Homo sapiens: one gene and its partners. The protein of the gene in region 1 purifies or fractionates together with the protein of each later gene. This does not show direct contact. Each region holds a gene or a part of one and is shown in the gene's direction. Other genes may lie near its edges.

Evidence for each region.
Region 2: the proteins of EXOC6 (region 1) and EXOC1 purify together in Homo sapiens (affinity purification with mass spectrometry; 5 studies listed by BioGRID and IntAct, with this or other methods). This does not show direct contact.
Region 3: the proteins of EXOC6 (region 1) and EXOC2 purify together in Homo sapiens (affinity purification with mass spectrometry; 6 studies listed by BioGRID and IntAct, with this or other methods). This does not show direct contact.
Region 4: the proteins of EXOC6 (region 1) and EXOC3 purify together in Homo sapiens (affinity purification with mass spectrometry; 7 studies listed by BioGRID and IntAct, with this or other methods). This does not show direct contact.

What each region holds. Positions count from the first base shown.
Region 1 is NC_000010.11:92,843,982-92,852,103, forward strand, and holds the start of EXOC6 (exocyst complex component 6), read left to right. Parts: upstream 1-4,538; 5' UTR 4,539-4,552; coding exon 4,553-4,653; intron 4,654-8,122. UniProt on the Homo sapiens protein: Component of the exocyst complex involved in the docking of exocytic vesicles with fusion sites on the plasma membrane.
Region 2 is NC_000004.12:55,870,148-55,878,188, forward strand, and holds part of EXOC1 (exocyst complex component 1), read left to right. Parts: intron 1-530; coding exon 531-758; intron 759-953; coding exon 954-1,086; intron 1,087-1,701; coding exon 1,702-1,811; intron 1,812-2,607; coding exon of another isoform or gene 2,608-2,661; intron 2,662-7,769; coding exon 7,770-7,919; intron 7,920-8,041.
Region 3 is NC_000006.12:626,670-634,710, reverse strand, and holds part of EXOC2 (exocyst complex component 2), read left to right. Parts: intron 1-1,593; coding exon 1,594-1,770; intron 1,771-4,749; coding exon 4,750-4,876; intron 4,877-8,041. UniProt on the Homo sapiens protein: Component of the exocyst complex involved in the docking of exocytic vesicles with fusion sites on the plasma membrane.
Region 4 is NC_000005.10:438,314-446,483, forward strand, and holds the start of EXOC3 (exocyst complex component 3), read left to right. Parts: upstream 1-4,862; 5' UTR 4,863-4,977; intron 4,978-7,836; 5' UTR 7,837-7,892; coding exon 7,893-8,036; intron 8,037-8,170. UniProt on the Homo sapiens protein: Component of the exocyst complex involved in the docking of exocytic vesicles with fusion sites on the plasma membrane.

The sequences.
Region 1 (8,122 bases):
AAAAAAAAAAAAAAAAAAAATTAGCTGGGCGTGGTGGCACGTGCCTGTAGTCCCAGCTACACAGAAGGCTGAGGCAGGGGAATCACTTGAACTTGGAGGGCGGAGGTTGCAGTGAGCCGAGATCGCGCCACTGCACTCCAGCCTGGTGACAGAGCAAGACTGTGTCTCAGAAAAAAAAAAAAAGGAAAAAAAAGAAAAACATGCCATTTACAACATTAAGCTTAATACGACAAGTATTTGCATGTGGATCATTCACTTATTAATTGAGCCTCTACTATATGCAAGGCACTGGGCTGGGCAGTGAACAATACAGGCATCGTCCCTGTGCCTGATGTAGGAGCAGTTCCTGGAAATGGAGACAGACTCAGTGATTTGTTCACCACCATGATATGTGCTTCCAAGGATGAGTGAGCACTGCTCCCAAGGACAACGAAAGGTGCTTGCCTTAAAAGCGCAGGATCCAGAGGGTTCACTAAAATGGGTCTGGAACCAAGAATCCAACCCAAAGACATGTTCCTGTTTCCCTCTCTACAAAAGCAGGAAACATATTTCAGTTGGTTTACATCCACCAAACATGCAGAAAACCCTGATACACAATCAGGTTTTTTTTTAATGATTAGGAAAAAGAACATTTATGTGTCTGGTTTTTATTTTTATTTTATCAAAGAGGAGGCTAAAATGCTGGGCTCTCTGGCTTACTAGCAAATGCCTGATAACCCTAGTCGCCAATGCTAATGTTGATTGAGCTCTAGGCTAAACATAATACATATATTATCTTCTTTAATCCTCACATAATTTGGTGAGCTAGGGATTCTTATTGTCCTTAATTCACACTTGAAGAACGTGAGCCTTAGTCAAGTTAAGTAACTCCCTGAGGCCTGACATCTAGTAAGAGATGAGTTGGAATTTGAATTCAAGTAGTTAAATGCCAGACCAGAGCAGTTGCACTCTACAACCTCATTCTGAGGGAGGCGCTTTCCCAAGACAGGTCATTAGTCTGTAGATAAAAGGCGCAAAGTTAAGTTCCTAATGACTAAGAGTTTATTTACAAGTCAAATCCTTACTTTGCCAATTACTTTTATACTGGACACAAAATGCATCTCCTGTCCTGCTGGTCTTCCTGGTGTATCTTTCTTCTTCCAGGAGTCCTGAAAAGAGATTTTGGATTGATCTCTGGAAGTCAATATCCACTGCCAAAAAATAATTCCACATGCATCTGCAATCTGCCTGTCTGTGCCCTGCTACTCCGCAACCTTCTCAGTGCAGACGTTAAATCATTCACTCCTTGGGGCTGGGCGTGGTGGCTCATGCCTGTAATCCCAGCACTTCAGAAGGCCAAGTCAGGGCAATCACTTTAGGGAAGGAGTGTGAGACCAGCCTGGCCAACATGGTGAAAGCCCATCTCTACTATAAATACAAAAATTAGCTGGATGTGGTGACATGTACCTGTAATCCCAGCTACTCAGGAGACTGAGGCAGGAGAATCGCTTGAAAGCGGGAGGCAGAGGTTGCAGTGAGCCAAGATCGCACCACTGCACTCCAGCCTGGGCAACAGAGAGAGACTCCATCTCAAAAAAAAAAAAAAAAAAAAATCATTTATCCCTTGGATAGGCTTCCCCCACCCCACATTGACATATTTGATATATCTATGTCCATGATTAAAATGTACAGTTAGGGCCGGGGACGGTGGCTCACGCCTGTAATCCCAACACTTTAGGAGGCCGAGGCGGGCAGATCACCTGAGGTCGGGAGTTTGAGACCAGCCTGACCAACATGGAGAAACCCAGTCTCTACTAAAAATACAAAATTAGCTGGGCGTGGTGGCACGTGCCTGTAATCCCAGCTACTCCGGAGGCTGAGGCAGGAGAATCACTTGAACCCAGGAGGCGGAGGTTGCAGTGAGCCAAGATCACGCCATTGTTACCCAGCCTGGGTAACAAAAGCGAAACTCTGTCTCGAAAAAACCAACCAAACAAACAAAACAAATGTGCAATTAGTTATTTAGGACATTTAGCTTTGAATTCTTAGCTAAAACCTCCAGGTACTCACGGAACTGTCAGAAGTCTCAGAGGGAACCAGCAAAAACTGTTTCAGAAGGAGAAGTGGTAAATGGACTTCCTTCCATGTTCACTTGAATTTCGGGGAAGATACTGCTGCTTATGTTGAAGTAATCTCTATGGGCAGGTGTTGAAACAGGGCTGGCCTGAGGAGTGCCTAAGCAGGGCTGGTTTCCCAGAGCAGGGGCACTTGGAGCCAGCTTTGGAATAAAAGGTATCAGGACTGGTGAAGAAAAGGGGTAGAGTTCTAGGGAAGGAATGATCAGGAAAGTAATTCCCCAGCTGGAGACATTGGTCAAATAGGAAACTGGCCTGTGCCACATGCCCTGCTCTCCTCATTTTGCTCATTATCATAGTTCACCGCAGCCTCGAACTCCTGGGCTCAAGCAATCCTCCTGCCTCAGCCTCCCAAAGCTCTGGGATTATAGGTGTGAGCCACTGTGCTCGACCTAAGAAGTTCTTGAGAGGGGAAAATAACCTTTTGAAAATTGAAACTGAAACATAAAAAAAAGAAGACAAATTTTATCCCCTCCCACAAAAAGAATGAAAAGCTAGGTCTCTCTGCAGGAAATGGAAGACTGTCTTAGCTCAATGGATGTGTATAGCTGGAATCCATTGCTCTGAAGATTCCAGATTAATAGGAAGGAGGGCATTAGCAATGTTTTATAGGGCCCTTCCTAAGTTTGGTAGGCAGTGGGTCCCACTGATGCTCACATTCTAATCCCTGGAACCTGTGCATATGTTATTTTTACATGACAAAGGGGGTATTGCATATGTGATTAAGGTTAAGGACCCTGAGATGGAAGATTATCCTGGATTAAATGGTTGGGTCCACTCTAATCATATGGGTCCTTAAAAACTGAGCATCTTTTCCAGCCTAAGTCAGAGTCAGAGGAAGATGTGACCACAGAAGAATGGTCAGAGAGATGTAATGCTGCTAGCTTTGAAGATGGAGGAAGGGGGCCACAAGCCAAGGTATGTGGGTGGCCTCTAGAAGCTGGAAAAGGCAAAGAAACAAATTCTCCCGCAGAGTCTCTAGCAAGGAACACAGACATGCTGACACCTTGATTTTTAGCCCAGTGAGACCTGTGACAGACTTCTAACGTACAGAACTGTAAGATAATATGTCTGAGTCATTTTAAGCTACTCAATTTGTGGTGATTTGTTAAAGCAACAATGGAAAACTCATACACCATGGGACAGCAATATGAGGCAGACACTGCCATTGTCATTTACAGTCATTTAACTGACATATAAAAGAACTAGGTTCTTGCCCAATGTCACACAGCTGTCAAGTGATATTAATCCAAGAATTAATGTCTTCGGACACTGGTCTTCAGAGCTCATGCTCTAACTATTGCACAATACCACCTCCCAGGATGTTTGTGGGGAGGAGGCTGGAGGTAGGTTTCAAGTAAAAGCTCACTAAGGGTGAGTGAGTTACACAGCTGGATAAAGAGCTTGGTTGACTCAAAGGGAAGCTTTTCAAAGCCCTGGATTAATGTAGAGCAGAAAGTAGTTGTTCCTCAGGCTAGGTTTCCATTCTGTTCCTGTTTAGTCTTCCTTCCTCCCTGCTTTGATCATGACAAACTGGTTTACTCAGTGTCCCACAAACATGTCATTAAGCACGACTTTTTTCTACACTGATACCTTTGTCCAAGCCTCCCTGCCTCTCTCTCCCACCTCCCTGCTGCTAACCCCCTTTCAAGAGCTCTCACCCCTTCTCAACCCAGCTACTCTGACCTGGGGGCACCTGAGTTCACGGACTTTGGTATGAATTACACATCGCCCTGGGCCTTTTTTTTTTTTTTTTTTTTTGGTATCTCTGCCATCAAGTGTCTTAACTTCTCATCATTTAATTTTTTATGTCGCTTATAATTTATTTCCAAGTTGACTGGCCGCTGTGGACTTCTTGCAGGCGGGGACATGAATCCACCTGGAGCGGTCTTCATGGTCAACTGGGATCTTTATTCGTTCCTAAAATAAATCTTACTATCACATGCAATTTTGCTTTTCGTGAGTGCATGTTTTCCTTTCTCTGACTCCCCACGACCCAGAGTACATCAGGCCCTTGTTAAATGTCCCCGTGGCTCTTATTACAGATTCAGGGTGATGATCTGAGTGTCCACCTTGCTGATTACTACGGTACCCCCGCGTGTGGCACAGGGTGTGGCACACACAGAAGACAAGGAGATATGTTAAAGCCCAAAGGCCAGGCACAAGACGCCCAGGAGGGACTAGTCGCGAGAGAGGGCAGGAGGCCAGCTGGGTACCCGGCCGCCGCCCGTAGCCCCAGCTCACAGCCCCCGCTCACTCCTGCAGGTGCGGGGGCGGGAACCGGGTCGCGCGCCTTCTGCCCGGCGTTCCGCGCGCCCCCGCGCCGCCGGCCCGAGCGCCCCGCCCCCGCCCCGCCCCTTCGCGCTCGCGCCACTTGGAGCTCGCCCCCGTCGTTCCCGCGGCGCCGCGCCTCGCTGGCTCCTCAGCTTCCAGCCAAAATGGCGGAGAACAGCGAGAGTCTGGGCACCGTCCCCGAGCACGAGCGGATCTTGCAGGAGATCGAGAGCACCGACACCGCCTGTGTGGGGCCCACCCTCCGGTAAAGATCTCATCCCACCGGGACTTCGGCCCCCCGCCCCACGCCGGCCGCTCCTCACGAGCCGGGCGGGGCGTCCGCCGCCGGCCGCGCGCGAAGCTCCCCGACAGGTGGTGCGCGCGGGGGCGGGCGGGGGCGCTCGCGGGTGGCGGAACTCTAGCCGGTACCCGGGCGGGACCGAGAAGGCGGCTGCACCTGTCGGCGCGGCCTGCCTCCACCGCTGTAGCTGTCACCCCGCAGCCGGTGGGTGTGGCTGCTGCAGGGTCTCTAACCCCGGGCCCCGCGCTGCGGCCCCGCGTTCTCCTCCTGGCTGCGGCCCCCGGGCCCGAGGACACTTCTGGGGCCTGCCCCCGTCTCGCTCGTGGTGGGGCTGAGGGCTGCTCGGCCGCGGGCATGCCAGGCTAGGGTCGACAGCAGGCACCCGGCGTGACGGAGGTGCCAGGTCGCGCGCGGGTGGAAAGCCTGGCGCGCCGGGCTGCCGCGGGCGTGGGAGAATTGAAATTGAGCGGGAGACGCCGGCCCGCTTTCCCCCTACTCCCCCGCGCGGCCGCAGTGGGCGAGAAGAGAGCGTGGGCTGGAGAAGAGAGCGTGGGCTGGAGGAGAGCAGCTGCTTGCTGCTTGGGAACACGCTAGGGTGACCCTGCGCTCGCGGGATCTAAGCTGCTTTGGAGGCAGAACAGCTTTTACTTATTTACAAACATTTCATTAAAATTGCATTAATTTTTCCGTTTAAATCGAGTTCCTCCCCATTCATTTTAAGAATAGTACTAGGTAATGCATATTCCATGCCAAACTGAGTACCTGCTGTTCCAATAGAATATTATTAGCCAGGCAACGTAATGAGCCATGGGTTAGGTTAGGCACTGTCTTCAAGAATAAGTTCCTTTTACATATAAGGTTTCATCTTTTGGAGTGATAATAATGATAAATGAAGTTATTATTCACTTAGGGAACTTGAGACTGATTATGCTTTATCATTAGTATTCTTCAGAATACACTTCCTAGAATAGAGCGCTGTACAGTTTGTGGACCTGTGAATATAGTGTAAATTGAAGCCAGTTCAAGTTATGTAAATACACCTTGCCCTTAAGAGTCAGGAGGCCTGGGTTCTTGTTTTGCCCTAATTCTGCCTCTGATGAAATGTGCAGTCATGGAAAAAAATTATTTAACCTCTCTGGATCTCGGTTTCCTTATTTGTAGAATGGGGAGGGGAGAGTATTCAGATGCCCAGGAAACTCAGAACATTAGGGACCTTGCCTATTTGTTCACTACTGTATCCCTAACACCAAGCATGTGGTAGGCATGTTATAAATTTTTGTCACATAAGGTTTCTGCTATGATATGATAATGCATAATTAGTGCATTTCCTTAATTTTCCAACATTATTATTTCTTTTAATAAACTGTATACTTGGTAATGAAAGAAGTAAGATTAAAAGGAAGCTTTGTTTTCATCACTGCATCTTGAAACTGAGAGTGCAGTGTGTGATAAAGTTACTAGAGTAGTTTATTTGTGAAAATAGTACTGGTTATGAAGGAGGTGCTTCATCTTAGGAAAATGTGCTAGGTAGTGTCCTTGAAAAAAGATGAAATTAACTTAGAAGAAAAATTTGAAATATATTGAGAGATTTTTGGGACACTCAGGAACAGAATATGTGTATTCATAGTGTTATTCTGTTCTTTTTTGCTGGGCAGTTGTTTCAACTGGCTCATTTTGTTTGAACCCACTCTCTTTTCTTTAGCAATCCCTGGTGACTCATACTTATCCCATATATATGTATATTTGTGTCTCATTTATAAGCAGACGCTTTTTGCACACATATAGAGGGTACTGCTAGCAGTCTTTTCTCTTGAACATTGTTTAAGCTACTACTATTTTTTCCCTTTTTTTTCAGGTTTCACGAAGTGAAGTGTTAATATTGCATTTTTAAAAACCATTTATTATGGAAAAATTTTAAATGTTTAAAAAAGTAAAATAGTGTAATGAACCACCATGAACTGTCATCTAGCTTCAATTCATTCCCTGGCCAGTCTTGTTTGATCTCTTCCCTTATCTACTCCCTATCATCTTGGATTATTTTGAAGGAAATCCAAGACATCAATTTATTCATAAATATTTTAGTATTAAGATTAATTTTTGTTGTTATTTCCTAATTATCTTTTAGCTGGCCTGTAGACTTATCATTTTATTTATATTGTTTTTTCTCAGCGGCGGGATTTTTCAGCCTGATCTTTTCCTGAGAAGCACGTGATAAACTTTCCGCAGGCCCTGACATATAACATGGTTCTTTGACCACAACAGAAGTATATTAGAAATCAGTAGTTAAAAAAAACAAAAAAACAAAAACTATCTGGAAAATTCCCAAATATTTGGTCATTGACTAACACACAAAAAATAAATCAAAAGAGAAATTAGAAAGTATTTTAAACTGAGTAAAATGAAAACACAGCATATCATTTGTGAATGCAGCTAAAGAAATAGTTAGAAGTTTATGGCACCAAACACCTCTACTAGAAAAGAATGGCTTCAGCTCCTAGCCTAAGAAACTAGGAAAAGAGGAGCAAATGAAATTCAGAAGAGTGGAAGAAAGGAGATGGTAAAGATCAGAGTGGTATTCAGTGAGACAGAAATACAGAAAGTCAGTGAAACTCAAAACTGGTTCTTTGAGGAGACTGTAAAATTGATAAACCTTTAGGGGTAGAAAAGGAGACGATACAAATTAAAAATAACAGGGCCAGGCGCGGTGGCTCACGCCTGTAATCCTAGCACTTTGGGAGGCCGAGGCAGGCAGATCACTTGAGGTCAGGAGTTTGAGACCAGCCTGGCCAACATGGTGAAACCCCGTCCCTACTAAAAATACAAAAAAATATTAGCTGGGTGTGGTAGCACACGCTTGTAATCCCAGCTGCTCGAGAGGCTGAGGCAGGAGAATCGCTTGAATCCGGGAGGCGGAGGTTGCAGTGAGCCGAGATTATGCCACTACTCTCTAGCCTGAGCGACGGAGCGAGACTCCATCTTAAAAAAACAAAAACAAAAACAAACAAAAAAAAAACAAAACCAACCAACTAACCAAACAAACAAAAAAACGGGAGTGAGAGAGGTTACGTGACTATAGATTCTACAGACATTAAAAAAAGGTTAAGAAATATTATGAATAGGCTGAGTGCAGTGGCTCATGCCTGTAATCCCAGCACTTTGGGAGGCTGAAGCAGGAGGATTGCTTGAGCTCAGGCATACAAGACCAGCCTGGGTAACATAATGAGACCTTGTCTCTACAAATACAAAAATTAGCTAAGTGTGGTGGTGTGTGCCTGTGGTCCCAGCTACTCGGGAGGCTAACGTGGGAGAATGGCTCAGAGTCTGGGTCGTTAAGGCTGTAGAGAGCTGAGATTGTGCCACTGCACTCCAGCCTAGGCAACAGAGTGAGACCCCCATCTCAAAAAATGTATATATATTATGAACAACTTCATGC
Region 2 (8,041 bases), on another chromosome or scaffold:
ATCATACTACAGTTATAAATTAGTTTCATATATCCTTCAGAGTCTGGTATACCACTGCTGCTTTCTCAACTAAGATATCACATAGGTGATTATGCTTTTATTTAGGGTTTCACATAGGTGTTAAGAAAATTTCTAGCTGGTAGAATTGGAGGAAATGTTAGAGATAACATGGCCTAATGCCTCCTAAATGTATAGAAATGAGAATGTGCCATTACCAGTGATACTTTCTGGCACCTTACTTGTGCATTCTGGAACCTTACTTGTGCAGTCTGTGGAAATATAAAATCCTAAGGCATGGTCCCTAACATTGATTTAGAGGCAAGTGTACCTGCATGAAATACTGTGTAAAACATGGAAGAACATAAAGTGATAAACTGAAGTAGATGTGTAGGTATATATCAATTTTTGTTATGCTACTTTCAAGGAAATTTAGCAACATTTCACCTTTATTCTTTTACACATCTAAATAACAAGTATGTTTTTTGTTTGTTTGTTTGTTTGTTTGTTTGTTTTGGTCTTTAACTTTGTAGGCTAACATCCAGTCAATCATGGCATCTGAAAAACAAGTCAACATCCTGATGAAATTGCTAGATGAGGCTCTAAAGGAGGTAGATCAGATTGAATTGAAACTGAGCAGTTATGAGGAAATGCTCCAAAGTGTAAAAGAACAAATGGATCAGATCTCTGAAAGCAACCACCTAATTCATCTTAGTAACACTAATAATGTAAAACTCCTATCTGAGATAGAGTTCCTTGTGGTAAGTATGATCATAAATTACCAACAAAAAAAAACTAGTGATGATATATAAAACCCATTTGTAAACATTTTTTAATTTCCTTGTGAGAACAGGATTTAAAATAATTCCAAAGACCTAATGATAGGACTGAATAGCATCTTGCCTGTAAATTTCCCAAAATTACACATGCAAATGGTGTGTTTGCATATATTCTAGAACCACATGGACTTGGCCAAAGGTCATATAAAGGCCCTTCAGGAAGGAGATCTTGCTTCTTCCAGAGGCATTGAGGCCTGCACCAATGCTGCTGATGCCCTTCTGCAGTGCATGAATGTAGCTCTTCGACCAGGTATGTTCATTAGAAATGACAAAAATGTGACCAAGAATGTGAGACTAAGCCTGTAACTTGTTATAAAGGTTTTGACAAGAAATACATGAGACAAGTGGTTTAAGGGTTACATTATTAGCTATTCAAGTTTCACTGATTTCCCAACTTATTTCTATTGATACTAGGAACTTTTTTACTTCAGTTCCTCCTTCTAATTGTCCTCAATGACTATAGTCAACACCATGATCTTTATTTAGTACTATCCACAGAACCCAGCAGAAAGTAGGTGCTTTGGTTAGACGAGAGCAATTATTTCAAAACTTGAGTGTCCGTCAGAATCCCTAGAGGTCTTGTTAAAAACATAGATTGCCTGGCCCCAGTCCCAGATTCAGCAGATCTGGGCTGAGATTTTAGAATCCACATTTCTAACAGTTCCCAGGCGATGGTGAGGCAAGACCACACTTTGAGAACTACTGTGAAATCCCATTTTTCTCCTGCTTAACTTTTATCATGTAAATGAATACACCCATAAAACTTTTGGGTTCTTCAAAACGTTAGATACGTTTAATGTTCCATTAAACATCAAGGAAATCTTTTTACCCATTAAACTGGTCACAAAATGTCGTTCTGTGTCAGGCCATGACTTGCTTCTGGCAGTCAAACAGCAACAGCAGCGATTCAGTGATTTGCGAGAGCTTTTTGCCCGGAGACTGGCCAGTCACCTCAACAATGTTTTTGTTCAACAGGTAATTTTATTTTATTATTAAAACGAGCATGTTCCTATAGCTTATTTATGTATTAACCTTACATTTCCACAAAAATGTTAATATGTTTAATTGGGGTTGCAGTCAATTCCTTCACATATTTGATTTTAAGATTTTGAAATAGGAGCCTCTTTGCTCATAGATGTACTTTGGGCCTCAGCTGCCTCTTTTGGTAGACAGTCTAGTTCCTTTCAGCTGATGCTCTCTGATTCTAGAAATCAAATAACTATGCATATGAATTGCATATACTACTTAGATATTTTTATTTATAAAGTAAGTCCAAACTTGTTAGATATTTACTATTGGACCTGTTTTATTTTTCAGTATTTTGAGGTGAGACTCAGGACTTGATTCAGTGTTTTAAATGTTTTGTAAGTTCTATGTACTTAGTACATAGTATAATTGTTAAGAAAATGACTAGCTCAACTGCAAATTTCAGTTGATCTAATCTTCATATAAATGCTTTACCTATATTTTTATATGGAAAAGGATGTTATAATTAAGAGTGTGGTAATAATATTGTTATTAATAATATTAAGAGTACCTTTGAGGGATTTGAATAAAAGCCATTTTAATATCTAATACAATAAATTAGGTTTCTTATTTTTTCATCTCTTTTAAAAGTCCCTTTTATTTTATTAGAGTTATAGAATGAAAAAAAATTGGGGGAATATCTCGTTCATCAAGAAATACTGCCTGAAAACAATGGATTTTTACTTTATTTTCACTTTGCAATATTCTAAAACAATTGTATTTACTATATTTTATTTCCAATTAGTTTACTCAGGCCCTCCTTCAACTCTATAACAGGTCCTACTTTCTTTCGGTTCCTGTGAGTACATCAAATTTGGCTCAAGCTTCTCTGATTCTGTTTTTTTTTTTCTATAAAGTTTGCTAAACTTAACAGCAGCCGAATCTTTACAGATTATAACTTACTGATTTAAGCTACCTGTTAACCACATTCGTAGCAGTTTTTAAATGTCCCATAGTAGAGACTATTTTGGCCAAAAAAGCATTTAATCTCATTCTGCTTGCTTTTCTTTCTGTCATTTTTTCACTCCATTTAGTAATAAATAGTAATATTACTCCTTCATTTAGTAATAGTAGTAATATTAATCCTTCATTTATTTAGTATTGCCAGGTGATTGAGGTACATACCAGACATTAACTTGGGATAAATGAGAGACCAATCCTGTCCTCTAGTAGTTCACAGTCTAGGGAAGCGAGACAAACAAATAATATACTCAAGAGGGATAAATGTTATGACAGCGAGACTGTGGGAGTGTAAAGGAAGACCACCTAACTAAAAGCACGGTAGGGGGGAATCAGAGAGATTCCCTTAACATTCCACTTGACTGAAAAGTGTCGAGAAAAAAGTAAGCTTAAATGTCACATAGGAAATACTAATTCATGTTTTTGTTAGGTACTTACTTCAATAACATCTATTTCTATACAATTCCTTAGTTTTTAAAAATGACACTGTTGACAATTATGTTATCCACATTTGTTAGATAGTATTGAAAATACCAGCCAGTAAACAATAGTCTTTTCTGTACCCTTAACTGTTTGTTGTAACATGCAGTTATTTATGATTTTGCTTCTTGCCTTGTAAACTAATGGCCTCGTTTAAAATGAATGCTTCCCATTTCTGAAAAGCTGATATGTGTTATTACATGTGAGTGATGCATGTTAAAAATCAGAACGCTGCGACAACCTGGGGTGTGCCAAAAACGGTGGAAGAAGATATCCCACACATAAGAAAGATTTTCTTAGTGTTGCATTCAGTGCATCAGGTCACCTAGCAAAATTGTTGAGAAACATGGGTATTTCTATTCCTGGTAGGGAGACAAGCTGGGAAAATTGATTAAAATAATATGGTACACCTCTTTGGCAATCACAGAATTTTCATTGTATGCTTATTATGTACTCACTGTCTACCATATATAAGAATAAGCAATAGTTCCTACCCTCAAGATGCTTGTAAGAAGGAATTAAAACTAATGTACTTACTCTTTGTAAGGAGTTAAGACTAATGTACATTAGCAATGTATGTAATAAATTGCTAATTGTAGAACTGTGGACTGTAAGTGCTAAAAAGGTTTAATCAAAAGTGAGTTTATTGAGAATTTAAGGAGTGAGATATGGAAGGAATTGCAGATAAGGTAGGACTTGAACGAGTCCATGCAATACAGTTTATAGCAAATGTATAGTTACAACATTTACAAATATTGTACTGAAGAATCCAGTGAAAATAATCTATTCACAATATAACAGTAATTTCAAAGCATTGATTCTCAGTCTTTTTAAAATTCACAAATTAGTAAAATTAAAAGAAATAAAATTCGGAGACTGACCAAATCACCAATTTTTTTATTTTACCAAATAAAGACCTTTAAAAAGAAATACTATTATCCACTTTCATTATCTTTTCATTTTAAAAATGACATTTTGGCACTAAAAGAATAAGAATTTCCTTTCCGATTTTAAAAATTAATACATTTACCCTTATGAAGGACTCACTTCTTTCATTGTACTTTTTCTTATTGCTATAGGCCAGGAAAAACATCTTGCATTTGGGAATGACTGATCCAGAGCATGCTATCTGTAATGCAACTTTCCTATTAATACTTCTGTGTTATCTATACTTAAGTGAAACTTGAAGTGTATTTTAATATAATAATCACTGTAATATAATATGAGAGTAATGTTACATAAAGAGTAGTTAGCTTCTTTTAGATCTTTCAGATCTTACACACTCAACTTCCCCTGAAATTATAGGCTCTTGCCCATAATTTTTACATTTACTAGGGATTTCTGTATCTAGAAAGATCAAGAATGAGAATCTGGTCAGTTTACACTAATTAGGATTATGATATTGAAAACAGTCAAATTAAGGCTAATGAAATTGAGGAAATATTTGCATAAAGAATATGTCCTTTAAAAAATTGTTTTGGTTGTTTTTTGAAAGATTTATTTTGATAACTACTCTCTGCCTTTTGTTTCCCCCTTTGGTTCTACAGAGACCTCATGATTCTATCTACTTTTGCCTTTAGCAACATGATGAGACTGATTATGTACATAACTTAGAGAAAATGAAAATAAACTGAAATGCACTGAACTAAAAGTACAACCAGGAAAAAACTGAAGTTGTGGAACTTTTTACCATATGCTTAAGTTTAGAAATTTTTCTCTCAACATACATATACAGAAACAAGCTATAATAAAATAAAACCTGTATTGCAGACCACCAGCATTCAATTTCTTTTACAAAAATTGTTTCCTTAAGCATATTTGTAAACACGGATTGATGATCTCTGGTTAAAAGCTTAGAAAGACTTGTGATTAAGATCTATTTTTGTGAGGTTTGTTGGAACTTTGCTCAGATTTTTTTTTTAAGAAAAGAATAAGTAAGTATGCCATAACAGAAAGAAGGAGTTCCAAATCTTGAAAATTTATTCAAATTTTGACCCCAATGTATCATTTCTTTAAAAAAGTCACTATAGCAAAGTGCTTAAGAGTGCAGACACTAGAGCCAAACTTCCTGGGTTCAAAATCCTGACTCTCCTACCTCCTAGCTGGGTTACCTTGAACAAGTTAATTGACATTTGTGCCTGAGTAAACAGTAGTAGAAGAACATAGACAATAATTTTGAGTCTTGAATCATTGAGAAAAATTAATGAGGAAGATTGTTTTGGATAACGATACATTGTTACTAATAAAAACTATTTGGTAAACATTTGTATGATATAAGTCTGTCAAATATTCTTCCCCTTTAATCAGCGTGACCAATTAAGGCACATAGTTTAGGCCAGGCGCAGTGGCTCACACCTGTAATTCCAGCACTTTGGGAGGCTGAAGTGGGCCAATAACTTGAGCCCAGGAGTTTGGGGGCAACCTGGGCAGCATAGTAAGACTCCATCTCTATTAATAAAAATAAATTTTTAAAAAATAAAACACAATTTGGAGACATTTATAGACCTAAAACTATAATATCTATATCTGGCTAGTATCTAATACATGTGATGCTGTAGAATCCTGATTATCCTTCTGGCATCTTGGTTAGAAAACATTTCTGTAATAGAATGTTTATATTGACCTTTGGCAACATAGAAATAGATAATAGTCCAATGGTAATGCCTGTGTATTTTACTTAATATTATTGATTTTGTTCATCTTTATTGTTAGCCCTTACAGAAAAGATATGGTAGCCCAGGCATTCTAAAAATACAGAATTGTTCCATTCTTCAACACTTTAGCTCTTAGTCCTCATTGATTCTTTTGGAAGATGTGATTGTTTTATATTCAGGTAGCCACCCAGAAAAGAATATCCACATAGGTCTACGCTCCGTTATCCAGAATTCTGGGGGTCAGGAGTGTTTTTAGAATGTTTCAGATTTTAGAAAAGCAATACAGTATATATACTGTATATTATATAATCACTCCAAGCACATGTTTTTGCAACAAAAAATATGAATAGTCACTCTAAGCACTATAAATAGGCCCATGTCAGTTCAGGTCACATTTTACCATCAAAATTGTTTTGGTGCCAAGCTTAGTCTGAGTTTTCAGAGCTTTTTGGCTGTCAGAATTACAGAAAGGGATTATGGACCTATTAATATACCTTGTGTATAACATCTGTGGTAGCTGTGAACTTCTGTTGCCCCTGTGTTCTAGTTCTTGTTATTTTGAACTGGTCAGTTTCATTTTGTGATATTTTTCTGCCATCTCTAGTTCAGTTTCCCAAGTTAACCTAAGTAGATATCAGTAAGATGAATCTGAGAAGTGTATTGGTTGTTTTCTACCATTTTATATGTAATTTCTGTATAATGGGTCCTTTTTTCTTTTTAATTTCCATTTTAAATTGGGATATATTCTCACATGAAGAAAATTTTCCAACAGACTGATTTGAAAACATTTATGAAGAAGGGACATGGATAATGATGTGGGTTTTTGTACTTGGCATGTCTTATACTCCCATCTTTCTTTCTCAGTTACCAAGGAACTCCTCATTTCCTCTAGGCCAGAAATGTTTCCTTCTGAATAGTCTGTATTTAAAAGAAAATTTTTTAAAATTCATAACCACTAGGTTATTTTGTGTATATAGTACAGTATATAAATTAGGTGAAAGAAATCCCTTTTAACTTAAAAGAATTTAAATTCAGGACGCTTATTTAGCTAATGTGTACCAACTAGTATGATACACATTCATAATTAGCTTTAGGTAACCTTATCAGGAAATGAGTTAACTAGCTCCAAAACTCTAGCAGTCTGTGTAATTTTAATACAGTTTTCACAAAATGCTGACAAATAACTTCTGGCTATCTAGGCAAATTAGATTGAGTGAAAATTACATCAAATAAATCTGTCTTGGTTTGCCTTTTGCTTGTTGTTGGGAAATTGTATTTTCAATTTGAATCTGCTCCAAGACAGAAGTAAGACTCAGATGACCAAGGTTCCAATTCCAAGCTCTAAGACTTTATATTCTACTTTTTTTTATCTGTTGTTTTAAATATTACAAACTCTAATGGGAATACCATAAATGTAGACTGTTTTGAATGATTTCTCTATTTGTGTTTCTTAATTCAAGCTATATCAAGAAGGTCATTTGCTTGGTAAATTGTGAAATATGGTATGAGAGAGACAAGCTTCATTAAAACGTTCCATCTTCATTCCTTTAAAAGACGGAATGGGTAGTTGATTTATCAGAGTGCCATTCTTGCGTATTTATGATTATCTTATGGTGGTAATGTTCATTTGATATACACAGGATATAAAAGTTGTGTAAGTATTTGGTTTTTATTTTTCTGTGTTCTATTCTTAATTATTTTTCTATGTCTTATTGGTTTGGCTTGGCCACATTTTGGTCATTGTTTAGACTTTTTATTGTAACGTTTCTTTGTACTGTTGATTACATTTATTTACTTATTTTACTCACTTTAGGGTCATGATCAGAGTTCGACTCTTGCCCAACACTCTGTTGAACTGACTTTACCCAATCATCATCCATTTCATAGAGATTTGCTCCGATATGCCAAGCTGATGGAGTGGCTAAAGAGTACAGATTATGGAAAATATGAAGGACTAACAAAGGTATGGATTTGACGTCATTTACTCACTGAGAATAGAGCATTATCTTTTAGAATTAAGAGGTCATGTGTTCAGTTCCCCAAGTTTAAAATACTGTAGTACATTCTTAGCAAAGCAGAAAATGA
Region 3 (8,041 bases), on another chromosome or scaffold:
TTTAATGCCATTATTAGAAAAACAAAGTTGCAGACATTAGTGAATTATAGGTATTTTAGAGAAACCCCTAAAATTCATTATTTCAAGCAATGTATCTTTAAAGCATAGTTGCTTTTATTCCTTTATGGTTTAACATTCTTACTAAATAGTTCTTTAAGTTGGAACAAAAGATGATTTGACTTTGTGCCTCCATTTTAAAGTCAGATTTGGCATTAGGTGATATATTTCTGGTATCTGAAAAAAAGCCGAAAGAAAACATTGCCATTGCTAAACCTTAGTGCTGAACATTATAGAAAGTTAAATAATGAGAAAAAGTGTGAAGTGTCTGCCGGGCATGGTGGCTCACACCTGTAATCCTAGCACTTTGGGAGGCCAAGGCAGGTGGATCACTTGAGGCCAGGAGTTCGAGACCAGCCTGACCAGCATGACGAAACTGTGTCTCTAAAAAAAATACAAAAACAAAACAACAACAAAAAAACTAGCCGAGCGTGGTGGTGCTCACCGGTAGTCCCAGCTGCTTGGGAGGCTGAGGCTGGAGAATTGCTTGAGCGTGGGAGATGGAGGTTGCATTGAGCCAAGATCACGCCACTGCATTCCAGCCTGGGCAACAGAGCAAGACCCTGTCTCAAAAAAAAAAAAGAAAACGTCAAGTGTCTGTGTCTGTGCCACATACATTCTGGTTTCTTTTCTCCATAAATATTAATTACATTGGTCTCTGTTTTGTGGAAATGGAAAATCTAAAGGAAGTAAGTTGGAAGGCTAGCTGACCAGTGTGGTGCCATGCTGGTATTCCCCCTGAGGTGTGTGCCTTACTCACTGCATCTTTCAGTGCCTCTCTGTTTGGTTATTACCTAAATTTTGTTTTACATGGTATGAGGGAGGTGACATCATGAGTTGACCTTCTGGGAGTGTAGGTTTACTGTAAGAGCAGAATGTAGTGTAGTGACAGTTTCATTAGGAAAGCACTAGGGCAGGAGGAACTACTATGCCAGCAGCTGACACACCGATGTAAAAGTGAGATGGTAATCCAGTAATGCCTGAGCACACTTCACTAGATTACCTGACTCTTGGTTATGCTTAAATAAAAAACCTACTTTAGTTCATTCTGTAATGCCATGTATAAGTGAACACTAGAAAAAGCACGTGAAGATTTGTCTCAGGAAGATGGGTGAATGTAGAATGTTTTTAGAAAATGATACATACGTTTATTAATACACTTTAAAATTCTATGTTAATAACTGAGACTTCAAATAATAGCAGTAGTTTCCCTTTTATTACCTCTGAAAGCATTTTAAGATTCTCGTAATCTAAGTAATCTGGAATTCCTGCAACATAGTTGTTGTGGTGTTCGTTTTCTAATTCTACGGATGTTTGAAGAAACTCAAATGTAGCCTAAAAGAAGTCTTAAATATTGGAGAAAAAAACAGGTAAGAGGAAAAGTCAATAGAGATAACAGTATATCTGCAAATAATATTGGGTATATTCAATAATGTCATTATTGAACAAGACTAGATTTAAAAAATGTAATCTACACGATTAAGGTCTTATTGTTCTTGTCTTTGAATTTTGTTATGCACATGCGTTTATTTTCAGGCTTGACCATTTGTGGACATAATTGCCTCCTGACGGCAGAATGGATGTCTGCAAGTAAAATAGTATGTCGAGTGGGACAAGCCAAAAATGACAAAGGAGACATTATTGTCACCACTAAGTCAGGTGGCAGAGGAACCTCAACAGTCTCTTTCAAGCTACTCAAACCTGAGAAAATAGGTAAAGTCTTTCATGGGTTTATTCTAAAGAAGAAAGTAAAAATGAGTTTGTCTTTTAAGCTGTAAAGCTGGTAGATTCGTGTAAAACCTACCTACTTGCATATCTCAACTTAGATTTAGTTTATGTTTATTTTGACAGGATTGGGATGTTGGTTAATATTTGTGTTACTTTCGGGAAGGCAGTGTGCTGAGGTAACAGTCAGTGAAGCCTAAGGATGACGGTCGTATGAGAACTACTCTTCTCAGTTCTTAAAATCTGTTCGTTCACTTGATATACCAGTTTTGGTTCCTTGATCTTGAATATAATGACATTGCTTTAAACTCTTAAACAAGGTTTGAGGTGAAAAATCCTGATTTGGCCAAATTAGTAATAATATATCTAAATAATATTCCCTTTTCCTTCATTTTATCCATCCTTCAAGGCCCAGATGATACATTTCCTAGCTTGGCTGCTTTTAACGCCCCTGTTAGTAATACTCACTCTTCTTTGAACCACATAGCACTTTGTTTTCCTTCTTTATGCGCTGACCACTTGCTGCCTTCCGTTAGCAGTGTTAGGAACTTGCTGCCTTACGTTAGCAGCGTTAGGAACTTGGTCTGAGAAGTCATGCTCTTTGAATTCTAACCTGGACTCTCTTACCATGACTGAGTATGTAACTTTAATACCTTCTTTATCCATGAGCAAAAGTGGAATATATTGGCTACCTCATAGGATTGGGTGAGTTAGAACATAAATGTAAAGTGCTTAGCATAGTCCCTTACCCAGCAAATTAATAATTTCTGATGATCTTTCTTGTAGCTATTTCTGTGCATGTCTCTTTCCCTTTTTAGAATAAGAGTAATGTCAGATTCATCTTTGTGGTCCTGTAATGTCTTGCACCTGGTCAGCATTTGATAAATATTTGTATAATGTAGGAATATCAGAGGCGTAATTAAACCCAGCCAGTACTTCTCTTTATAAAGAAAATAAATAATTTTGCAAATTGTTTTTTTAATCTTAGAGCATAGAGGCTTTCTGCAGCATTGTTCTCCACAAATTCCTAGATTATTTTTATAAATAAAAATTCAAGGAATTTCAGGGAAAATTCAGAGTGGACTTTATATATGTACATGTACGTGCATGTGTACATATATACATATATAACATTTCTATTTTTGTTTACTCTTTTTATTTAGTGTCTTCAAAAACTAAACTGAAACTAAAGCAGGAACTTGTTGTACAGTTTTCTAGAGGGACTTAAACATTTTGATAAAAATCTAATATCTTATGATCTATTTATATAGCAGATAAAGAAAACTTAGGCAAAAGTGGTAATTTTATTATTCTGGAATACTCATTCCAGGACCTAGCACATAGTAGGCTTAGTAAAGGTTTCTTTTTTTTTTTCTTTTTGTTTTGAGACAGAGTCTTGCTCTGTCGCCCATGCTGGAGTGCAATGGCGCGATCTCAATCTTGGCTTACTGCAACCTCCGCCTCCCAGGTTCAAGCAATTCTCCTGCCTCAGCCTCTGCAGTAGCCGGGATTACAGGTGCGTGCCACCATGCCCAGCTAATTTTTGTATTTTTAGTAGAGATGGGGTTTCACCATGTTGGTCAGGCTGGTCTCGAACTCCGGACCTTGTGATTCGCCCACCTCGGCCTCCCAAAGTGCTGGGATTACAGGTGTGAGCTACTGCACCCGGCCAGTAAAGCTTTCTTGAACTGAACTCAAGAGTGCCTGGACTTGAGCAGAAGCCCCTGTTGCATGCTGGCAGAACCACGAGTGCTGAGAGAATGAGTGGGTTCATAGAGGGCCTTGCAGCTACAGGTTGCCTGGTATTCAGACAGCCTTCTCCCATGAAGCCTTCTGATCCTCGCCTGGGGAGGCAGGCACGCTTTGTCTGTGCTCCCTGGCACTTGGCTCTTTTTCTGTTGCAGCCCAGGGCCTTGGAGGCCTAGCTGGTAAGCCCTGTGCTAGGTTGAATGATAACGGAGTTCAGTCCCATAAAGGAAGATGCTGTTTTTAGAGCTTATGTTGTCTTGTTCACAGGGTCCACACCCAGTCAGTTTTCCCTGAATAACCTGGTTATTTCCATTATACAAGCCATGCGTTCCTTGAAAGGTGTTTGATTTAATCGTTAGATATTTTATTGAATTTACCAAATTGATTTCAGCCTAATACGGAAAAAAATCCCTGCTGTTTCTACCATCTAGGACATTTCCAGCACTGATAACAGCAAAAAGAATGAGAAATAGCAAGTAGCATATTATTTTTGCATAACTATTCATGAAAACATGCCAGAGTTTGTAGAGGAAAAGAAAATAAAAGATATTTCTTGAGAGCTTTCAAGAACCATTTAAAAAACATTTGGTTTTCATTTGTAGTGAAATGTCCTTAGGTAGCTTATGGAACCCAGAAGCAGAAACTCACAGTATTAAATATAAAATCATATATGCATAATGGTTTTTCGGCATTTATCATAAACCAGAAGCTTTCCACTGAGCTAACATTTTACTCGAATGTTTTGTGCTTGGATATTTCCCAGACATTTTCCAAGAGTTTACATGATTTCAGAATATTCTCTTGAATAAACAGATATTATAGGTCATATTATTTCATCTTACTGACTTTCTGAATTTTTTGTGCAGATTTAATCAGCTACATTTAACAATGTTTAATTGTAGTGTTTATTATTTGTAAAATATGTTTGTTATTGCAAAACTTTGTCTAAGCAGCTTAATTTGTCTTCTCTGTTGAGTAATGTACAATGAAACCATAAGCTGAGAGGTGTAATTTTTGCCTTTTTATAAATTTTTTTAGTGCTTATAATTAAACTACTAGTCATTTTTTAAAAATTTAGCTGTTATGTCCTCAAATCTCTTAAAGATTATCCAACAGGCATTTTGTATTAGGTCTTTAAGAAGTCAGACAATAGGCCAGACGTAGAAGGTGCCTGGGGTAGGCTTCATCTTATTAAGCATATGCTCCTCATTTCTGTAGGCATTTTGGATCAGTCTGCTGTGTGGGTTGATGAAATGAATTATTATGATATGCGCACTGACAGGAACAAAGGAATTCCGCCCTTGTCCTTACGTCCTGCTAACCCGCTTGGCATTGAGATTGAAAAGTGAGTACCATCTTGCTTTCAGTCTTCTTTATTTTTCAGTTCCTGAAAAGTTTTATATACTTACAGGAAAGGGACTCAAACTCCAGAAACATCCCAGGAAACACAGTTGAAGACACCTCAGTTGTTTGGAGATGGGTGTTATTTATGAAGCCTTGTTAGCTATGCTGCAAGTAAACTTTGCAGTTAGTTAAAACTTGTGGCTAAAACTACTTTTACCTCTTCAGTTTTTTGATTTTGCATTTTGTGAAAAAGAAAAGTCTTTAGTATGTTGTCTAGAGATGGTTAAGTTTAAATAGGTAGATGGCACCTGAAGTCAAAATAGCATACATAATCTGTTTTTTTGATTTTTCTAGAAGTATTTTAGAATAGCCAGGTCTAATCTGGTCTTTAATTTTGTCTATAATGTCTACTCATTCTTGCTTAATCCAGACTTATTTAACTTTAATCATCAGAATTCTGCCAGGTAAATGATATCTTTCAAGATGCCTTATAACTGAATCTAGAGTTTTTTTCTGAATTCCTAGTACAGTGTTTTAGTAACTTTTATAATTAGTGCCTTTCTACTTAAACAATTCACCTAATGTGTTAATCGCAGCTAATTTATCTTCTGGCCTTAGTGCTTCTGCTTATGGAATTGTATACTGAGTATTGCTCTGTAAACTCTTACCAAAAGTGACAAATTAGCACTGTTAATACTTTAACCATGGTTTTAGTTTAGGGTTTTCTAGGAATGGGGAAAATTCTCCAATAATCTCTCTATATATAATCTTCAAGCCTACTCTTGAAGATCATTAGTTTCATTTTCACCTGCTGGGGTTTGCCCCTGGCTGAGGGGAAGTAGCATGTTTGTCTTGGGAAAGTAGCACGTGTTGAAAAAGTCTGGGGCTTAGCAGCTTCACGTGAGCTTTGACTGTTCTAGGTAACATCTTTGAAACATTTTTGCAGTATGGGTCATTCTAGAGCCGTTTAAGGATTCCAGTGCCTCCAAAATTAAGAGTTCAAAGATTGAGAAGGTTTAGAAAATAATGGTAACAGTTGGGTATTTATTTGAGCACAGTTTTAAGCATGAATAGACTTGCAGTTGATAGTAAGCCCCTTATGGGTGCTTCAAGGCTCTGGAAAGCCAGTCTCTTTCCAACCTGCCTGAGAAGTGTGGAGCAGGAGGCCCTCTGAGCTGCTCTTCATAACCAAGAGCCAGTTTTATACATGGGCAAAAGGAATATGGAGATATACAAAATATATTTAGTATGAGACTTGGACAAAATTATCAGTTAGGGTTCATTCAGACGTTTACTATCATAAACGTGATTTCTTCAACTTCTGTTTTGGTGTTTACCCCCACCCCTGTTCTCTCTACCTCCCCACACCTTCTCAGCCTTTGAATCTCTTTATTATTCCTGTTGCTGCTGCCCACAGTGTGGTTTGGCCTGAACTGCGTCTAACAGCAGTGTTCCTAATAAGTGTCAGGTTAATTATTTGATGAGATTGGTAATGGCAGTGAAGAATAATGGCACTGAAAGTACTTAGCTTTCTTAAAATGTTCTTTTCTTCTCTGAGAGGTAGTTTGATTTTGTGTGGGGCAAAACTCTCTCAATTTGAACTTGGGCTGTGCCACTTACTAGCAATATGACATTGAGTAAGTTACTTAGATTCCTTTTGCCTCAGTTTCCTCAGGTGTACAATGCAGTACCTGTTCCTTAGGGTCGATGCGAGGAATCAGGAAGTGAGGAGGTAAACAACTTGGAGCATAGCAAGTGCCTCACAAGTGTTCATCCTTACAGGATTCTTTGCTCTTCTTGGATATATACTATTCATTGTTCTGCCACATAGGAAAAGTTTTTGTTTAATGACTTAAGATTCCAGGGTACTAAAGTGTTTTAAAATTTTAAAATAACATTATGTACATTTATCCAATAAGTACTTCAGTGGGAATAAAATTAACAGATTTTGATGTTACTGTACAGATTGTTACTTAAGTTTCAGAAATATTTGCTCAGCCATGGGATAAAGTAAAATATTAAAGGATAATTTTTGAAAAAGGGAAAATCATGATTCTTATACAAATATAAAATAAATAGATGTCAGAGCTTTTATTTAACTCATAATTAAGGAAAGAACCAATAAGATGTTAAATCCAGCCCAAAGGAAAGTCCAGAGGGGAGACATACGCAATGAGAAATGCCGAAAGATGCAAGACCGTCACTCCGTCTCGGAGGAGCCAGTGGTATCCTCACCTGATGTGCATTTCTGTGGACAGGAATCCCTGGCATCGCCATTAGCCCTCCACAAGCCAGCTCTGTCTTTCTAATAGAGACTCAGAATAGCCAATGATCAGAGAAAGGCGCGGATCCTGTAGCATCAGGGAACACGGGGAGGGCCCTTTAGGCCGTGAACAGACATCCAGTCATCCTTCTGTCCGTCTGAAAGTGTTTGGCAAAAGACTTTCAAAAGAAAGAGAGGCTAGATGTAGAGATTCCAGGAAGCAAGAAAATGAAAGATGAAAGTAAGAATAGGTGTAGAAACCAAGAGAAGATAATGCTTTTGGCCAGAAAAATGCTTTTCCAGGCTTCTTTTTTTTTTTTTTTTTTTTTGGATACTGTCAAGAAAGCTGTGTTTATCTTACTGAATTCTTTGACCTCTGTTAGATAAATCTTGTTTTAGAGAAAGATAAAAGGAAGGAAAGGCAGACTGTAGAATGTTGATGTGGGTTTTATTTTGCTGATTTACTTACTATTTTTCAGATGAAGGCTTTGGTAGAGGATGGTATTGTACTCAGGTCAGGATCCCTACTGTCTTTTAGTTCTGTTTATTAATGTCATTTGGGGCTTTTAAAAAAATAATTAAAAACCTAGAGAGCACCTACTTTTTGAAAATGTCAGTATTGAAGGAATAATAGGGTTTTAGTATTATTTGTTTGTGGAAACATACTTAAAAAAGTTTGCGGCCGGGCGTGGTGGCTCACGCCTGTAATCCCAGCACTTTGAGAGGCCGAGGCGGGCGGATCACTTGAGGTCAGGAGTTTGAGACCAGCCTGGCCAACGTGGTGAAACCCCGTCTCTACTAAAAATACAAAAAATTAGCTGGGCGTGGTGGCAGGCGCATGTAATCTCAGCTACTTGGGAGGCTGAGGCAGGAGAATCACTTGAACTCAGGAGGTGGAAGTTG
Region 4 (8,170 bases), on another chromosome or scaffold:
TTTCCAAAGTCACTTTATTTCCTTTAAAGAGTGTGCTGGTTAATCTACATTCTAAGACAGCCTTTCACCACTAAATATAAGGCAGCAATAAAAATAAAAACTCTAGAGCCGCAAGCCTCGTGAAGGAGGAGAAAATGCCTGCCATCTCCCTGCTCCTGACCAGTGGCATCTAGAGAGGGCCTAGGCCCCCCTCCCCTGTCACTGAGGGTCAGGGCCCCTCCTGGGTGCTCTCAGGACGTCCCAGACCTGACCCGTCCTGTAAGAAGTGAGGAGGGTAGAGCTGAGGGCACTGTGGGTCCGGGGCCATGCGGGGTCCACCCTGCCTGGCACAGGGCCTGCACGACAAGCCCATGGGAAGGGGGAAGGGCCCAGGCAGATTACGGCCAGACCCCTCAATGCCATCGAAAAAAGTGCTGGGGTCTCCTTAAGCACAAACGGCAGTCCAAGGCCCAGGGAGCTGCGCTTTTGTTTCCTTTCAGGCATCTTTAGAGCCTGCGCAGCCCCTGCCAGGCCTCCTTCGCACCCTGCAGCCCATCAGCAAACCCGTCCTGGTCACTCGTGTAAGACTCCCGTGTCCTCCCCCAGGACCAGGCCAGCCCTCCCATCTGTGGCCCCACAACTTGACCCACCCTGCCCCCCATGCCCTCTCCTCTGTGGCCTCAGGCAGATGGAGTTCCCGCATTTTCACTCCTCACCCCCAGTCTGGCTTCTGCTGAGTGTGCCTGTGTGGAGTTGGAACGCATACAATTCTTTTTTCTTTTCTTTTCTTTTTTTTTCCTGAGATGGAGTCTCACTCTGCTGCCTAGGCTGGAGTGCAGTGGTGCAGTCTCGGCTCACTGCAGCCTCCACTTCTCAGGTTTAAGTGATTCTCCCACCTCAGCCTCCAGAGTAGCTGGGACTACAGGCATCCACCACCACGCCCAGCTAATTTTTGTATTTTTAGTAGAGACTGGGTTTCACCTTGTTGGCCTGGCTGGTCTAAAACTCCTGGCCTCACATGATCAGCCTACCTCGGCCTCCCAAAATGCTGGAATTACAGATGTGAGCCACCACGCCCAGCTGGACGCACACAATTTCATCTCACCAGGCGCTGCCCAGCGTCCTCCAGAGGGGCTGCACCCACTTGGCCTCCCTTCTACCAGCCACACCTCCTGGGCTCCCATCCTCACCCCACACTGGCACCTGTGTGGACAGACTTTTTCAGTCTTGGGCTTCTGAAGGGATGAAACGGCAGCTGTTTTATGTGCATTTTGTTTATTCATTCGGCATATTTTTAGTCCTTGTTGAGTATCAGGCCCTGCACCAGTGCTGGGGACGCATTCAGGAGAAAACGATGCAGACATCAGTGCTGTCCCAGAGCTGGCGTCTGAACATGTGTGATGTGCGGTGTGTGCGTGTGCAGGGGGAAGGGGTGCAGGCAGCTGAACGTGACCATGAGAACCCCGTAAACTCTGCGGGGCATGGAGGGGACCGGTGCTTTGCAGGTGCACAGAGCTGGGGCTGGGGGTGGCCCAGGTCTTTGGGGGCAGTTTTATGCAGGACGTATGGACGGCTGGAGCTGAATAGCGAGTGGGGGAGGCTGCATGGCCGCAGTGAGGTCTGGCTGACAATAGAGCAGGGCCTGGGTCATGGCTCATGGTCTGGTCAGGTCAACGGACACCCTAGTCATGGCTCAGAGGCTTCAGCAGGGCCCCGTGGGGAGGGTGTGGGGACAAGGTCTCCCTGAAGGCCGAGGGAAGCAGCTTATTCCCCGGAGCCAGTGGCTCTTGTCCTTTACCCGTTTCTTGCTGCACTTGTTTGCCCTTTTAGATCAATTTGCAGGAGTTCTGTTTTTATTCTGGATAGCAATTTTCTTGTCAGTTACAGATGCTGACAATGTTTTCCCTCAGTCTGTGGCTTGGCTTTTCACTTAAGGATTTAAAAATTATATCCCACAAGAGTTTAAGATTTTAATATAGCAACTTTTCTATTTTATTCTTTATGGCTTATGCATTTTGCATCTTAGGAAAATAACTATCTTTGACAGTGGCTTTTGACCAAAAACCCATGTTGTTTGATATTCATATCCCCACACCAGCTTCTCGGGCCTGGCTGACCCACGTGTGAAAAGCCTCCAGTTCTAATCGTTGTTTCTTGATGCTTTAGATGTTCGCCTATGAATGTTTCACTGTTTCTAATCCACTTACTTGTGTTCTCATTACTGATACATTTCAACACAGGGTCCTCATCTTCTCCTTGCCTGCAGTCTCTGTGCTGTTGCCTGCATTTTCTCTCTTCCTGTTTCTATTTCTGTAGTGGCTAACCTTAATGTGGGCATTTAACAAGGTCTAAGCAGGAGCTAAGCACGGTCTCTATTCTCCCAGAGCAGGGTCAGGACTGTGGGTGCTTCAGTGCCCTCCCCTCCCTCCCCCTCGAGTTTGCTCCTGTCAAGGTGGAGGAGGATCCCTCTAGCAATGACCCTGGGTTGGCTTCCGCCGAGGGCTGAGTTTAGGAACAGTCTCCAGGCTGTTGCTGTTTTCCTAGTCCACGCTTTCACTGAGGATGCATCCCTTGCACATCTGTGCTTCACATGGGAGTCGCCGTCCACCTCCCACCTGCTGGGAGCCTTAGCTTCATCATCTGTCCTGCTTCAGTGTAAAACCCAACCCCTGGGCCGCAGAACTCGCACCCTACCCACCCACCTGCCTGCTGTAGGACGGCAAGCATCTCTGCTTCTGATTCACGTCCTCTCCCCTTCCCACATTTGTCCCTGGTCACGTCCTTGCCTGTTCGTGAATCCACTTGTGCAATCGACATGATGCTTGCACTCAGCAGTGCTCCTGGGTGTTCGCAGAACATGGTCTGCCAAAAACAGAAGTCAAGAAACTTTTTTTTTTGAGACAGATTCTCCCTCTGTCACCCAGGCTGGAGTGTAGTGGTGCCATCTCAGTTCACTGCAACCTCCTCCTCCCGGGTTGAAGCCATTCTCCTGCCTCAGCCTCCCAGGGAGCTGAGATTACAGGCATGCACCACCATGCCTGGCTAATTTTTGTGGGGTTTTTTTTGGTAGAGATGGGGTTCCTACCAAAAAGACCATGTTGCCCAGGCTGGTCTCAAACTCCTGGGCTCAAGGGGTCTGCCCATCTCAGCCTCCCAAAGTGCTGGGATTACAGTTAGGAGCCACTGCGCCCAGCCAATAAATACCTTTTTTTTTTTTTTTTTTTTTTTTTTTTTTTTGAGACGGAGCCTCGCTCTGTTGCCCAGGCTGGAGTACAGTGGCGCGATCTTGGCTCACTGCAAGCTCCGCCTCCCGGGTTCACGCCATTCTCCTGCCTCAGCCTCCCGAGTAGCTGGGACTCCAGGGGCCCACCACCACACCTGCCTAGTTTTTTTGTATTTTTTTTAGTAGAGACGGGGTTTCACCATGTTAGCCAGGATGGTCTCGATCTCCTGACCTCATGATCTACCTGCCTCGCCTCCCAAAGTGCTGGGATTACAGGCGTGAGCCACGGCGCCCCGCCAAGAAAGACTTCTAATCAATGTTTTGTTAAGAAGTTACTAGACAGTCCTCCATCCAAATTCACTACCAGACACTGATATAATAGTATGAGTCTTTAGTTCATAATACTCAATGTTACTATATTTTTAAGAGTCCTAAAAGCTTTGGCAATTTTGGCAATTTTTTCTTCATTAGTTTCAAAATTTCTTTACAGTCATAATTTCTAACACAATTTTAACTTTTTTACTTTTTTTCATTGCTCAACTTGTTGCTAGATTTTCAGAAATTACAAGGAAAAACTGAAATAATAGAGCCGGGGTCAGTGTCAACATCAGCAGGGCACGGGGCAGGGCTCCCTGTCGGAGTGGCAGTGGGGGCTCCCGCAAGCTCCATCTCCTTCCTGTGTGCCCCTGCCCCATGCTGCTGCCACTTCCCTGGTCTCTGCTGGCTTCCCTGCCACCTTCCAGACCCTTCCTTTCGTGTGGCTAATTTTCAGGAGGGGCAGGGGCACAACCTAGCAGCTCCAACCTATGAAAGACTTTGTCAGTTGGTGTGTCAAAGCCAGCATCTTTTATCAAACAGACAAACCCTGAACGCTCGTGGTTTAGCACGTGCTTCTTCCTCCAGGCGAAGCCAAGTGCTGGCCATGGGCCTCTCCTCCAGGAAGCGACTCAGGACCGGCCCTCTGCAGCGCGGCCCAGTGACCCACATTCATTCTCCAAGACCTGCGCTGCTGGGCCTCTGAGGGGCCCCGGAAACATCCGGTGGCCACCCATCCCACTGGCATTGTTCCCACGAGGGTGCCAATGACTGCGCTCCTGGAGGGGCTGAGTTCGTCTTTGGGTCCAGGAGGTACCCAAAGCCGCTTGTCTGCTGGTGGCAGGTATGACAGACGTTTGATTCCCAACCTTCTCCGCTTTGGTTTCTTCGTTTACTGAATGCCCGGCGCCCACCTCAGTCCGCGGGAAACGAGGGACGCCCCTGCCACACTGCAGTGCGGACGACGAGGCCAACATAAAGACAGCAGGCATCAGCAGAGGATGGAGACAGCGGCTCTGGGGCTGTCTTCTCTCCGCAGGTTGGGAAGGGAAAGGAGAGAAAATGCACGCAGTCACGCTCGGCGGAGGCGTCCAGGACTGCGCCCGCCCTGGGGAAGGGCGCACGCGGTGGTCGCCAGGGGCAGCGAGAGGGCCTGAGTTGGGGGGGCTGGGACGGACAAGAAGCCCCCCACCTCGGCGGTTTCCCTGTCCTGCTGGGGAGCGGCCATGGGGCAGGTCCCCGAGCTGAAGTCGCTCGGCCGGGAGACGAGTACCCGCCCCGCGGGAGGGCCCGGACCCGTGCTTCCGGCGCCGTTGCCGGAAGCGGAAGTGCCCGCGCGCTGTCCACTTCCGGCCGGGACCCCGGAGGCGGAGGCAGCGAAGGCGGAGGGGGCGGCGGGGGCGGCGGCGGCGGCGGCGGCGGCGGCGGCGGCGGCGGCGGCGGCGGCGTAGCCGTAGAGGGTGAGTCGGTGGCAGGTCCTGACGGCCGGCGGGTCCTTGGGAGGTGGTCGCCGTCTTTCATCCTTGCTCTCCCTGTCTCTGGCTTCCGCGGGGGCGCGTAGGGGGAGGCCGGACCGGGACCTGGAGGGCGGGGAGGCCGTTCCGGACCCCGTGGAGTATCCCGCTCGTGCGAGTGTCCTCGGCGCAGGTGTCCTCCCCGGCACATGTGTCCCCCCCAGGCGTAGGTGTCCCCTTGGCACATGTGTCCCCACAGGCACAAGGTCCTTCCTGGTGCAGGTGTCCCCTTAACAGTGTCTTCCCCCACGCCCCAGGCGCTGGTGTCCTTCCTGGCACAGGTGTCCCCCCTCGGAGCAGGTGTCCCTCCTTGGGGCAGATGTCCCTCCAGGCACAAGTGTCCTTCCTGGCGCAGGTGTCCCCTCGGCGCAGGAGTTCTCCAAGGTGCAAGTGTCCCCTCAAGCACAGGTGTCCCTCCCAGGCACAAGTGTACTTCCTGGTGCAGGTGTCCTCTTGACGGTGTCCCCCCCCAGGCGCAGTTGTCCTTCCTGGCACAGGTGTCCCCCCTCGGACCAGGTGTCCCTCGTCGGAGCAGGTGTCCTTCTGGGCACAAGCGTCCTTCCTGGCCTTTAGGAAGCTTTCAAGGTGCAGGTGTCCTCCAAGGTGCAGGTGTCCTCCAGCGGAGTGTCCCCTCCGTGAGGTGCCTCCCAGCACAGGTGTTCCCCTCGGCGCAGGCGTCCCCCCGGTAAAGGGTCCCTCCTGGCAGAGGTGTCTGCCCGGCAGAGGTGTCTCCCTGGCGCAGGTGTCTCCGTGGGTGCTGATGTTCCCCGCAGTAGGGTGTCCCCCCGCTCGGCGGAGAGGCTCACAGCGGAGCCAGCGCCAGGGGAAGGCAGTCAGAAAGGCCCTGGTAGGGGCTGGACCTGGGTCTCTGTTTATGGTCTCTGAGTTCCTCTTTGGCTTCTGTGACCCAAAATCTTTAGTCTTCAGGCTGGGATGGAAGCCTCTGCGGTGCGTTTTTTAACTCCAGATTTTCCCCTTTTCCACATGAGTAGCTTTATTCTGACTCCAAGGCGAGCCCTGCTTCACAGCTCTCCACTCACATTGCCTTGGCTTCCACCCACAGCGTGACAGACTTCACTCCAGCCTTAAGATGGGCGCAGCCACCTCACCGCGTGCCCCAGCAGAGCGGCTGGGGGTCCACTTCTTGGGTTATTATCCAGCCCTATAATCAAAATCATACAGGCTTTAATGTCAATGGAAATGCTGATGATAATGTCCAAACAAAATAAGAAAACAAAAGTGTGCACCTACAAAGTCATATAAGCAGTGGAATCTTAGCTTTAAAAGAAACTCAAAGGGAAAAAACTGGAAGGAAACAAGCCCTGTTGGAGGGAGTTGCCCCTGAGTGTCGGGATTTAAGGGGAGTTGTCCCTGGGTGGCGGGATTTAAGGGGAGTTGCCCCTGAGTGGTGGGATATAGCGGGGGTTACCCCTGAGTGGTGGGATTTACGGGAAGTTGTCCCTGGATTGTGAGATTTAAGGGAAGTTGCCCCTGGGTAGCAAGATTTAAGAGGAGTTGCCCATAGATGATGGGATTTAAGGGGAGTTGCCTCTGGCATCTTTGTATTTTTGTCCTGTCCAGATTTTCTACGTTGGTATGCCAAATTTCATAATCAGAAAATAAAGAGAAAGGAAAGGTTGCAATGTAGGTCCAGATGAAAAAGGAGAAGAGAGGTGTCTGAAAGCATGTGGGCATGGAGAATGAAAAATTCCAGGAGAAGGTGAATCTTTTTAATATTCATGAAGATGAAAATCAGACAGCTGAAGTCAAGGGGAACAGGTGTATCGGATTCCCTCATTGACTGATGCTCACCAAGCAGCTGTGTTAGCTCCCCGAGGAGGACGATGGTGGAGGGAGCATGGAAGGCAGGCTTGCCTGGCATCTGAGCACCTGTGGTCTGCACGGGGCCTGCATAAAGGAGGGAAGCATGATGTTTTCTAGGACAGTTAAAAAAGGGGGAAATGGGGTTTTGGATACCCAAGACAATAATGACTTTTTCTTTTTTTTTCTTTTTTTTTTTTTTGAGACGGAGTCTCGCTCTGTCGCCCAGGCTGGAGTGCAGTGGCGCGATCTCGGCTGACTGCAAGCTCCGCCTCCGGGGTTCACGCCAGTCTCCTGCCTCAGCCTCCCGAGTAGCTGGGACTACAGGCACCCACCAACATGCCCAGCTAATTTTTTTGTGTGTATTTTTAGTAGATACAGGGTTTCACCATGTTAGCCAGGATGGTCTCGATCTCCTGACCTCGTGATCCACCCGCCTCGGCCTGCCAAAGTGCTGGGATTACAGGCGTGAGCCACCGGGCCTGGCTGACTATTGTCACTTTTATAGGGTGGGAATTGTGGGGCTTGTGCTGGGCCTCCAGCTGTGGTACCTGGTCGGGGGAGTTGTCCACGCTGTATTTGTCTTCACTGAGGGTCCTGGTGCAGCTGCCCACAGGCCTGGCCAAGGTGCTGGGGGAAAGCTCCCGAAATGAGAAACCAGCCCTGTCTTGGGGAGAGATGTGCCTTTGAGGCTGACATCTACATGCTGGGTGGTCTGGGACCCACATCTAGAATCTTCGCAATGTCCATGTCTCTCATGCCTGTGAAACGCCCCTGCTCTCCCCTTAAAGGTATAACTTCTGCATGTTTGTGTTACGAAGGTTTGTTTATCTTATCAAGGAGTTCCTCATCCTAGTTCAGCTTTCTTTGAGGTTTCCTGGATTAATGATCTCAGAGGCTCTGCTTGTAGCTCCACTGTGATCACCTGATAGTTTGGGGGAGGTTTTGTACCTAACATTTCTACCGTCCTAACAACTCCTGCAGTGCACAGAGAACACCCCTAGCATGAACAGTGTGAGGATTCCACCAGCTTTTTCACCATGAAGGAGACAGACCGGGAGGCCGTTGCGACAGCAGTGCAAAGGGTTGCTGGGATGCTCCAGCGCCCGGACCAGCTGGACAAGGTGGAGCAGTATCGCAGGAGAGAAGCGCGGAAGAAGGCCTCCGTGGAGGCCAGATTGAAGGTGAGGCCACCTGCCCCACTCCCAGGATCTGTCTTGGGCTTCAGGTTCTTGCTTGACATCACCATGATGATTTTGCTAAACTAGCCTTTATGGTAATGTGCAAGGAGGCAGAGCTGGACTTTCTTGAGCAGTTA